Regions from separate parts of the Homo sapiens genome. Here region 1 is linked to region 2. Evidence: fine-mapped expression QTL. A gene starts in region 2. The other region holds a variant in brackets. All regions are shown on one strand. Distances are between the middles of the regions.

Evidence for each region. PIP is the estimated chance that this variant, and not a neighbour inherited with it, causes the effect.
Region 1: its variant is fine-mapped to the expression of PCYT1B in whole blood (TOPMed, PIP 0.99).

Annotation. Positions count from the first base shown.
Region 1 is chrX:24,670,321-24,675,701 of GRCh38, forward strand. It overlaps a transcript of PCYT1B not described here. Among named protein-coding and RNA genes, the nearest start is that of POLA1, 21 kb to the right of the region's middle. The variant C/T (reference allele first, on the strand shown) is at 2,698.
Region 2 is chrX:24,645,076-24,650,456 of GRCh38, forward strand. It overlaps PCYT1B (phosphate cytidylyltransferase 1B, choline), which reads right to left and starts at 2,272. Exons shown (of 8, transcript NM_004845.5): 1 at 1,914-2,272. The coding sequence starts at 2,030. It overlaps PCYT1B-AS1 (PCYT1B antisense RNA 1), which reads left to right and starts at 4,998. Exons shown (of 2, transcript NR_046638.1): 1 at 4,998-5,074. RefSeq lists an enhancer at 2,468-2,517.

The sequences.
Region 1 (5,381 bases), 25 kb after region 2:
AGAGCTATAAAAGATTATTAAGTTCATGATTATTTTCACCTTTCAGATTCAATATTTAGCAGCAATGCTTGTAACTATTGGCTGTTAAGTAACTCCACCAGCAGTAACCAGAAATGGTCGTGTGTCAGCTTGGGTGGGGGTATCAATCTATGGTACACAAAGGGCTGGTAGTCAGAAAGTTTAATTTACAGAAGTTGAGCCTGCCTGTGTGAGAAAAGTACACTGAGAACCGAAAAGCATGAGAAAAATGTTAATAAAATCATTCTTTATTATTGTTACCATTAATAATGTAATCCATTTTAATTGCTCAAGGAGGTTAAATAAGCCTATTCAATTTAATAGAGAAATCAAGGCACAAATTAGCAGCATAGGCAAATGGTCAGGAGCTTGAGTCCTTTTGTTGAATACAATTACATAAAATAAGCCATGGAAAGTACTTAGCCCGGGACATGTCACCCTATAATGTCAACTATTATAATAATGATAAGTGATACATTTGGGAGACCATGAAATTAGAGGCCTTTGTCTATTTTCAATTTGCAAAAGGTATCAGAATACGGAGTGATATTTGCACAGATTTAATTCTACATGACTGGAACATAGAAGAATCATCTCAACTTTCCATATCTGCACCAGTCCAGAACTGAATCTAGTTGTTTTTTTTGGCAACAGAGTCTCACTCTGTTACCCAGTCTGGAGTGCAGTGGCATGATCTTGGCTCACTGTAACCTCCACCTCCTGGGTTCAAGCAATTCTCCTGCCTCAGCCTCCCAAGTAGCTGGGATTACAGGTGCCCACCACCATGCCTGGCTAATTTTTTTGTATTTTTAGTCGCGAGGGGGTTTCACCATGTTGGCCAGTCTGGTTTAGAACTCCTTACCTCAAGTGATTCGCCTGCCTAGGTCTCCCAAAGTGCTGAGATTACAGGTGTGAGCCACTGTGGCTGGCCTACATCTAGTTATTTTGATACTACTTCAAATCTAATTTTGAAATGAGGCATGAATGAATGAATGAATGAATGAATCAATCAATCAATCAATCAATGCCTCCTGATTCCCCCATTAACTCAATACAATTGGCTAGTAAAACTCATGAGTCTTCAATATACAGTACAAATTTCTCCAAATTTAAGATAACATGGAGGTGACTGGGGAAGGGACCAACTGGGCGAAATGATCAATCAGTCATGTAGCTCAAGTGTCTGCTGGATATGAACCTAGACTACTTTCTGAGTAATATGGTGCTTAAACCAGCCACCCATATCCATTCCAAGGGGCATGAGAAGGTTTTGAAGGGATGCTGGTACAGGAAAGACCAGGGCCTGTGTCCATTCTCAGGGTAGTGGAGTGAAACCAGCTTCACCGTTAAGCAGAGAAATTCCCTCTGCCTCGTTGTTGGGAAGCTGCCTCTGGCCCTCAATCTCTTCTTCACATCATCTGGGGTCCTTCTTAACACTTTGTCCCACTGCCTAAACTTTCTCCATCTAGAACTCATTCAGTTTAACAAGGTTCCCCTTGAAATACATTCTCCGGGCACCCTCTGCCCAAGAGAAAAGACCATATACAGTGGTCTCACTTAAGTGACAGTTGCATAACATTGAATTCAGAAATGGATTGTCTTCACTTGAGGTCAGGATTTCGAGACCAGCCTGGCCAACATGGTGAAACCTTGTCTCTATTAAAAGCACAGAAATTAGCTGGGCATGGTGGTGCACGCCTGTAGTCCCAGCTACTTGGGAGGCTGAGGCAGGAGAATCGCTTGAACCCGGGAGGCAGAGGTTGCAGTGAGCCGAGATCGTGCCATTGCACTCCAGCCTGGGCAGCAAGAGCGTAACTCCATCTCAGAATAAAAGGAATGGGTATTCTAATCAGGATTTTGTGACGTTTCTACTAGGAGAATTTCTCATTTCATAGGATAAAGAACATTTTGTTAAAACATTTCTGCAATACCCTCAGGCTCCCATAGCATATTGATCTGACCTTTTTTTTAGTAAGCAAATTTGTTCTTGTCATCTAAGTCTATCCAGGGAGCTGACATACTCTGCAAGGGGATAAAGAAATATTAGTCACAATTTGTTTTTCTTTGTCTTTTTTTAAATCAACTTAAGACGGAGAAGATAATGTTTCCATTTTTAGTGTGACTATTAATTAGCACAGATTCATTACACTTGCAGATACATAGGACTTTACTTTTTGAACTGACTTTGATATTCAATAAGGCAAAAATCAATAAGAAAGTATTCACATTACCTTGCGCCACAATTGGGGAGCGCGATTGTCCTCTTCCATGATGCACTCCTGATGGCCTACCATGCCTGCTCCTGATCTTTTTATCTTCTCTAGAGGCCTCTACCCTTTGGAGTTCTTTTGAGTCACAGGATGAAATTTTTGTTGCTCACTTGACCAAAGGTCAAGCAGGCTCTCTGTGCCCAGCGCTCAAAGATAAGCTCGGAGGAGCTCGGAGTGTCCCAGTTGTTGAATAAGGAGAGATTTGAGTTGCTAGGCACTCTTGCTTTACTTACCACAAGCCTCCTCTTGTCCCCTCTGGGCTGTTGTTCATTGACAATTGCTGTGCTCTGAACTAGCGCTATGATGGCCTGTTGTGCGGGGACAGGCGGGTTGTGGTGAAAGCTGCAGTCGTGAAAAAGGCTATTGTTTAATCTACCCCGTCCCTCGCTGAAGCTATGGCAACAAATTC[C/T]GTTGGTGAATTAACTATGTCATTGTGCACTGGCTCAACTGATTATGCTCCTGGAATGACAAACATTTTCTCTCTTTTTTTCAAGACAAACAGTGACCGAGACCTTGAAGTGTTAATATACAACTCAGCACTTTCTTTAAATAGGAGAATAAAGATGGAAAAAATAAATCTCTCAAACATACTTTAATTGATTCTAATAAACATTTTATCCCTTCCAAGGAGCTATTCTCAGCACCATTGATAATGAATTTGTGCATCTTAACTATGTGGAGTCTTCGGAATTTGTGTTAAGGTAATTTTCTCTCAGATAACTCTGTGTTAAAAGAACTCTTTAAATATGCATGTGCTTCAGGCTTTCTAAGAACAACATTCTTTTTAAATCTGGCTGCACCAAAGGGCTATGGAAACCTTGGCTGCAGACTGTTACCTCAGTTTAGAGGGAAGGCAGCTGGTCCACCTAAACTCACCTTTGCCAAGTAAAGATATCCTTTGTCCCATCCTAGCAGGAAAACTCTTAGAATGCTTTCTCCTCTATTTTAAGCTCCAGGACAGTAAAACGTGCTCTGATTGGTTGAAGGATGCTTTTCAGACTCCCTCACCCCTCCCCACCATTCATTCATCCTATACCTTCTGCATCTGGGTACCCTGCCAACTGCTGGGGGAGCTCTGCCGGTGGCCACACTGTTTCCTAGTGTGGTAGTGTGTAGTGTTCTGACTTGCTAAGTTGGAATCACATTTCCCAGGATTCCCTTCCCTGAAGGCTTTGGGTTAGAGTTGACCAAAAGAAGAATTTGCATAAGATATGGGAGGTGGAAGTGAAGTAGGAGCGGTTATTTTGCAACGGTTGTTGTGGTTAGGTATGGTAACAAACAGAGGTAGACGTGAAATCGGATCCCGCTTGTCCTCACTCTCCCTCACTCTGTGTCCAGATCTTCTTTGTGAGTGCTGATCCTGTTGACCAACAGGAGCCCCAGGGCCACCACTGGACACTTGGCTGCAGGCCCATAGAGGTAGGAACAGCTTCCCATAGGTCTCCCCAACCGGCTTCCCCTTCCACTTGCACAGTTGGATGTGCTGGGCTTCTCAGACTGATGGTGGGTGGCTCCTCCCATCTTCCAATTTCCTCCTGGACCTTCAATCCCCCATCCCTCTCACAATGGGGCCAGGACTAATTCCTATGATAAATCGCTTCCTCCACAGCTCATCGTGGTTCTGCTTCTGTGACTGAATTCAGATTAATAACACTTACTGTTTCCAAACAACACAAGCACTGTTAGGAGAGCATCCTCAGCATGGAGAGAGGTTAGAGGGCCGCAGGGAGAAAACTCCATGGAAGTTGGATCGAAAAGTATCTGAGGACCCCAAGGAAATAGATGTTATATTTGTATCAGATCTCTCCCTACAGTTGCTGATAGCCCTCACCCTGCAAAGCCTTTCTTCAGATCCAAACAGTTAGCTCTTCTTTCTTCTTCCCTCTTGTGGCTTCCCCTCATCCTCATTCTGTTTGTTTGTTTGTTTGGAGATGAAGTTTCACTCTGTCACCCAGGCTGGAGTGCAATGTCATGATCTGGCTCACTGCAACCTCCACCTCCCAAGTTCAAGTGATTTTCCTGCCTCAGCCTCCTGAGTAGCTGGGATTACAGGCGTGCACCACAATGCCCAGCTAATTTTTGTATTTTTAGTAGAGATGGAGCTTCACCATGTTGGCCAGGCTGGTCTAGAACTACTGACCTCAGGTTATCCACCTGCCTCACCTCCCAAAGTGCTGGGATTACAGGCGTGAGCCACCGAGCCTGGCTGTCCTCATCCTCATCCTCATTCTTTTTTTTTTTTTTTTTTTTTTTTTTTTTTGAGGCAGAGTTTCGATCTCGTTGCCCAGGCTGGAGTGCAATGGTGCGATCTCGGCTCACCACAACCTCTGCCTCCCAGGTTCAAGTGATTCTCCTGCCTCAGCCTCCCTAGTAGCTGAGATTACAGGCATGCGCCACCACACCTGGCTAATTTTGTGTTTTTAGTAGAGACAGGGTTTCACCATGTTGGTCAGGATGGTCTCAAACTCCCAAACTCAGATGATCCACCCTCCTTGGCCTCCCAAAGTGCTGGGATTACAGGCATGAGCCACCGCTCCCAGCCCTCATCCTTATTCTTATCTTGCATAGATGATTCCCCAAAAGAGACTGGGATTGGCCATCAAAGGTAAGCCACACTGTAGAGGTAGGTTCCAAGTAGTGAATTAAAACAGAAAAAAAAAAACAAAAAAACCATACCCAAGTCCTGGGCACATTATTTCCTCCAGATTTATTCACTGGATCCATTAAAATGATGTCCCAACTTGATGGAGCACGAACAGGTCAACTCAAATAGAAAGTTTCTCTGAAACTAACTGAAGCCTGGTTCAGCTGTCAGGAAAAATCACCCACCTCTATTTGCACTTGTTTGCTCTTGTCAGTAATGGAAAAATCACTCTTGTGTCATTAAGGCCCAATGGTTTACAAGAGAGGCATATTTTGAAATTGCTTCTTGCTGTCATACCTTAGAATAACAGTGCATTTGATTATATTTCCAAGCTTCTTGTTTCACATCCCAAAGAAGAATCACTACCAATCTACTCCCTCAGTTAATTCCTGCTTAGAGCAGGTAATTCTTTGTCATGAGCACAAGAAAGGTGAGAGGGTAGGTTTTGA
Region 2 (5,381 bases):
AAGTAACTTGAACTTTCTTCTTTCCCTTAATTTTCTCTGCCCATCTCCCTCAGGCAGAAGCAATCAAGAAGCAGAATAGCTAAGAGGTAAAAATGGAAGGAAAAATAGTAGGCAAAAGAGACTGAAATGATGCACAAACTGGAGCTGGATGCCGCCTTTCTCTCCTCTGCCCTTTACCTCTGTCAGGAAGGTATGTGATGCAAATTTGAAGATTGTGGTTACTTTAAAAAATATATTTTTGGGTAAGCATGGGCACAAATATATATACATATGTGTGTATATATGTATATATGTGTGTATATACATATATATATATACACACATATATATATTGGTCCAGTGCTGTGGCACAAGCCTGTAATCCCAGCTACTTGGGAGGCTGAGGCAGGAGGATCACTTGAGTCCAGGAGTTCAAGTTTGAGGCCAGCCTGGAAAACAGAGTGAGTCTCTCTCTCTATTTATGTGTATATATGTATATGTGCATATGATAATCTTGTAATATGCTTTTAGTGGTCATTTTCCTTTATGCTAAACCATAAGTTGTTTAGTGACTCAAAGGAATCCCTTAGTAACAAACTTATTGGGATGGTTTGTATCTCATGAGAACATAGACACTGCACTGTGTATGTCATTCAGTAAGTGGCTAAAGTGCTAGGGCACAGTTACTATTAAACTGCCCTAAGAGAAAACATTTTTAAAAATAGAAGCATAGGGGAAAAAAGCCCACAGGGCTCTAATATAACTTCCTCTGTATTTGTGCTTTTTAGGAAGTTGTTCTAAGCCTCCTTTGAACCCTTATTAACTCTTATTAAGAAATAACAGTTTTATGATGGGTTGGCCTTCTCATCTGCGAGCCCTAATTTTGCAGGTTCACAGAAAATGCTACATCACAAAATCCTTTTTTAAAAAACTCTTCCCAGGGTCAAACTCCACAGCCAATCAAAATATTCCACCTTTTAACTTGAGGGAAATCGCTAAAGGAAAGGATAGCTTTAACTAGTGTGTCTTTTGGATTGGGGGACTCAAAGAGAGGTCTCCCCAAGTTCCACAAGACTTCGGACCACAGAAAACCCACCACCCATGCGTGTTTTTGATTCCTTGAGGACACATGCTGAGGTGGTTGGGAACGAAGTTTCACATCTACCTAAAAGATCATGACCAGGGATAGAGAGACGACCAAATTTGGGAGAGCAGTTACGGTGCAGTTACGGAGGCGGAAGGACGCTCTCAGTACCCCGTTTCCACACTTTCATTCTTAAAGGCATGCAACCCCTTTCTAAATAAATGTAGCTCCCCAGGTTTCCACTACCTGAAGAGAAACCCTCACAGCACACTCTGGAAATGTTTTACAATTCGTTTTAAATGCGTATTATTTCTAACTAAATCATTGAGGGACTCCTATGTATTTATTTATTTATTTATTTTGAACATTTTCAAACGGATGGGGAAGTTTTGCTTCCATGTTTCCATTTTTTTCCCCCCAAATTGGCATTAGGCACCAAAATCAGTTGAGGAACGAAGCATTCCTTAGCTAGAATTTAAAACTTAACAAGGGACTCTTCCCGAGCTTGGTAAAGAGAATACCATTTTAAAATTGCACTGTAGGATTTTTTTACCTTCAGACAAGAACACACCTAAAAGGAAAAAGGCCCTCCCCTCCTCCCGAAGCACAAAAACACAGCATATCCCAAGCAGCCCGTTTCCTACCCAGCCAATACAATAACGCTTTGTAAACTGAGAGCAGCGCCCGGTATAGAAGCTAAGTATAAACAGCTGAGAAGGATTAGGCGGTAGCGCTCTTCTCATTTACATGAAAATCCTCTAAGCATCGTTTTCCTCGCTGGCTGCGGGCGCATAAGGAACTCTTTTATGCCATAGCCACGCATACATTTCCATCCTTTGTCTTTACTTACCAGTCGAGGCTGTGGGCATGTGTGCTCTATTTCCTCCATGGTTTCTGAGGGAGGCTCATTGGAAAGGGATTTTGGGATACCTGTTTCTGACTCAGCATCAGTGGTAACTACTGGCATGGCCAGTGAATGCTCCCTCTAGCTCTACACCCTCAGAGAGTCTCCTCCCAGGCAGAGAATGTTTTCTTTGTCACGTATTTTTCTCCCCTCTACCCTCCACCCATCCCCCCGCTTCTTCTCCCCTTCTTTCTGTCTTCCCTAGGGGAAGTAAAGAGGTTACCCCCCGCCCCTCTCTCTCTCTCTCTCTCCCAGAAGCCAAGAGGCAAGGCCTCAGTTTATCACTATAACAACCAGACGACACTGAAGCGGCTGGTGCGGGATACAGTATCTCATTTGCATAGAGCGCGCTGGTTGGCTACTGTCATCATAGTACCACTCCGCCGGGAAGCGGCCGGGCCCCATTGGCTAGCCCTCCGTACCCACGGGCCCGAACTTGCTGCTTTTGTTTCTTCTGTTTAATTCAGTTGCAAAGGTCTCCGTCCTCTCTGGGCACGGGACCCGGGCTGCGCCACCCAGATAACATAAAACCGCTTCCTGAGGGGCCTAGGACGCCTTGAGAAACAACATAGCAGACCTCCACTAATAAAGGACCATGTCCCTGGGATGAGCTAGTGCATGATGTGCTGTAGTCAGGATATTTGCCAAATAGGAGTCACCCTGAAGACAAAGCCACTTTTGAGCCCAAATTCATTGTGCTAATTGCCAGTGGAGGGCCCCTCCGGGCATTCACTATGGGCACCTGAGTGTTCGACCCCTGGACTTCATGCAACGTGAACCCTGGCAGATCCCCTCGTGGCCTGGTGTAGCCCTGGAGCCCTCCCCTGGGGCTGCCCTAGGGGGAACTTTGAAGGAGGTAGATTGTCTTTAACAGCCTGCCTCCTACTCCTGGCTGCCCTTTCGCAGTTGCTTCCTCTGTCAGCCACTCTTCCCCTTCCCCAGCTATTCAAAGTTTCCTCAAGAAGTCTTGCTGTTGTGTGCCTTTCAATACACTGTTCCATGCACTGCTCTATTTTCTCTTGGTTCCTACTTTACCAGTCGTGGGTCCCATTTCCGAAGTACCCTGCTCTCAGCCAAATGCTCATGGCAATCAGAGATGGAATGTTAACGATCAGGTGCTTTAATGTCTACATTATCTAGGGACATTCACATTTTAAGAGGAGCATTCTGAAGACACACATCCAAAGAACTTACCAAGGTATTCATTGTGAATTGTCACTTTTAATATTAATAAAAAATCATGATGATCCCTGGCATTTATTAAGCACAAGCACGGTGCTAAGTACTTTACCTAGTTCTTGTTTAATCTTTGTGAGAACCCAAAGAGGTAGATCCTATTGTTATCCTCATTTTACAGGTATTCACATTCACAAAATTCTAAAATAATGCAGCTGGGATTTGAAGGAATTTTTTTTTTTTTTTTTTTTTTTTTTGCGAAGGGCGAGGTGGTGGGGGCGGGCGCGTAGGGACCAGGGATGCAGCAGGTGTAGTAAGAAAAGGATCTAGGCAGGAGTCCTCTTAGGACAAGTCCCTGGGCTTCTACATCTTTCATTTTTATCTACAGTAGTGGTTTTCATTCAAGTGTGGTCTGGGACCAGCAGCACCAACATCAGCATCACCAGGGAACTTGTTAGAAATGCGAATTATTGGCCCCCTGCCAGACCCCGGACCTGATTCAGTAAGTCTGGGGTGGGGTCAGAATTTGCTTTTCTAGAGAGTTTCTGGGTGTTGTTAATGCTGCAGGTCTGGGAACTATACTTTGAGAATCAGTAGCCCAAAGGATGGGATAAAAATACCGGGCTTGCCTCCATCACAGAAAGGAGATCAAATGAGATATCATGTCATTGCACTTTTTGAATTAGAACGTGCTATGCTAATATAAGGGGACATTATTTTTATTACTCCTCAATAAGCAAAGAGGGCTAGTCCTAAAAGAAGAAGAAAATGGATTCTGTAGCAGAGAATTACAGTTTGACAGTTTTAGATGCTGGCCCTTTAAGTCAGAATAACATCACTTAAGAGTATTATGACCTATACAGGACAGAACTCCAGTGTTGTGAGAATTCCAGTGATGCTTCCTACCCTATTTGCCCTCCTGGAAGCACAAAACACTTCCAGCAGCAGGTTTAACTCTACCAGCTCATCACCTGGAAGAGCCAAGCCCTGTGTTACATTTAGGAGCCCTTTTCCTACGTGTACTGGGTGACGTGCAAATGACATGGTTATTCTAATCTCAATATATGTATTTTTGCCTTAGAGCAGTGGTTCTCAAAGTGTACTTCTCCAAGAAGTGCAGCAGCAGCCCTGGTCACTTGTCAGAAATTCTGGATCCCCACCCCAGACCTACTGAATCAGAAATTCTGGCTTCCCACTCCAGACCTACTGAATCAAAACCTCCTGGTTTGGGAGGCATTCTGACCCACGCTAAAGTTTACAAACCACTACCTTAGAGTCACTGTTCACATTGGAAAGCACCTAAACCCCACTGTATTCTTGGCCACTGAGCCACCCCTTGGTTCCTAATTGGTCACCTAATTCTCTCTCCAGAATGAGAGGTTCACCTGTTCACCTGCTCATTTTAAAGAGTTCTGATGTCTAGCTGAGTCCTTGTGAACTCTTGTCCAAGAGCCTAGGCCATTCCTTTAGACTCCCAATATCTTCTGTCTCCCTTCCTCACCTTCTTCTCCTCCTAATCCTCCCCTGTCCCATTGAACCAAGATACTGCCTTTGCCTAGGATATCTTCATTGTATTACCCACATCAAATCCTTAGCTTTCAGTGCTACTTTGTGCTAAGTCCGTCACACCTGACACTTACTCATCCCAAGTCCTTGAACTTTGAAATTTAGACTTCTGTCTAACTGCCCTGAGGGTCAGCTCTATAACTAATTCCATTCCCACTAATTCTGCTCCAGCCTAGTCCTGGCTTCTTCCTGCTCCTCTCCCCACAGTCCTGTGATTGAATCTCAGCATGTCTTGCAGTCTTAATGGCAGAAATAGGCTCTTTCAGGCACCACTCTGAGAGGAGTCCTTAACAGATCCACCCACTTTGGAGACCAGTCCTGGCAGCTGCTACAACCTGACTCAGAAACTTCTTGATAATACTTGAGTGAGTTATTTTAACTTGGGGGCATTGTAATGCTATCAAGACAATTAGCTAAGAATGATCAGTTAATTCCACACTACAGAGCTAAATATTCCATAAGGGTTATGAAGGGGATGACTATGAAGGGATAGCAGGAGAGAGTTTATTGGGGTAATGGAATTATTATGTAGCTTTTTTTTTTTTTTTTTTTTTCAGACAGGATCTTACTCTGTTGCCAGGCTGGAATGCAGTGGTGCAATCTCAGCTCACTGCAACCTCTGTCTCCCAGGCTCAAGCGATCCTCCCACCTGAGCCTCCCAAGTATCTGGGA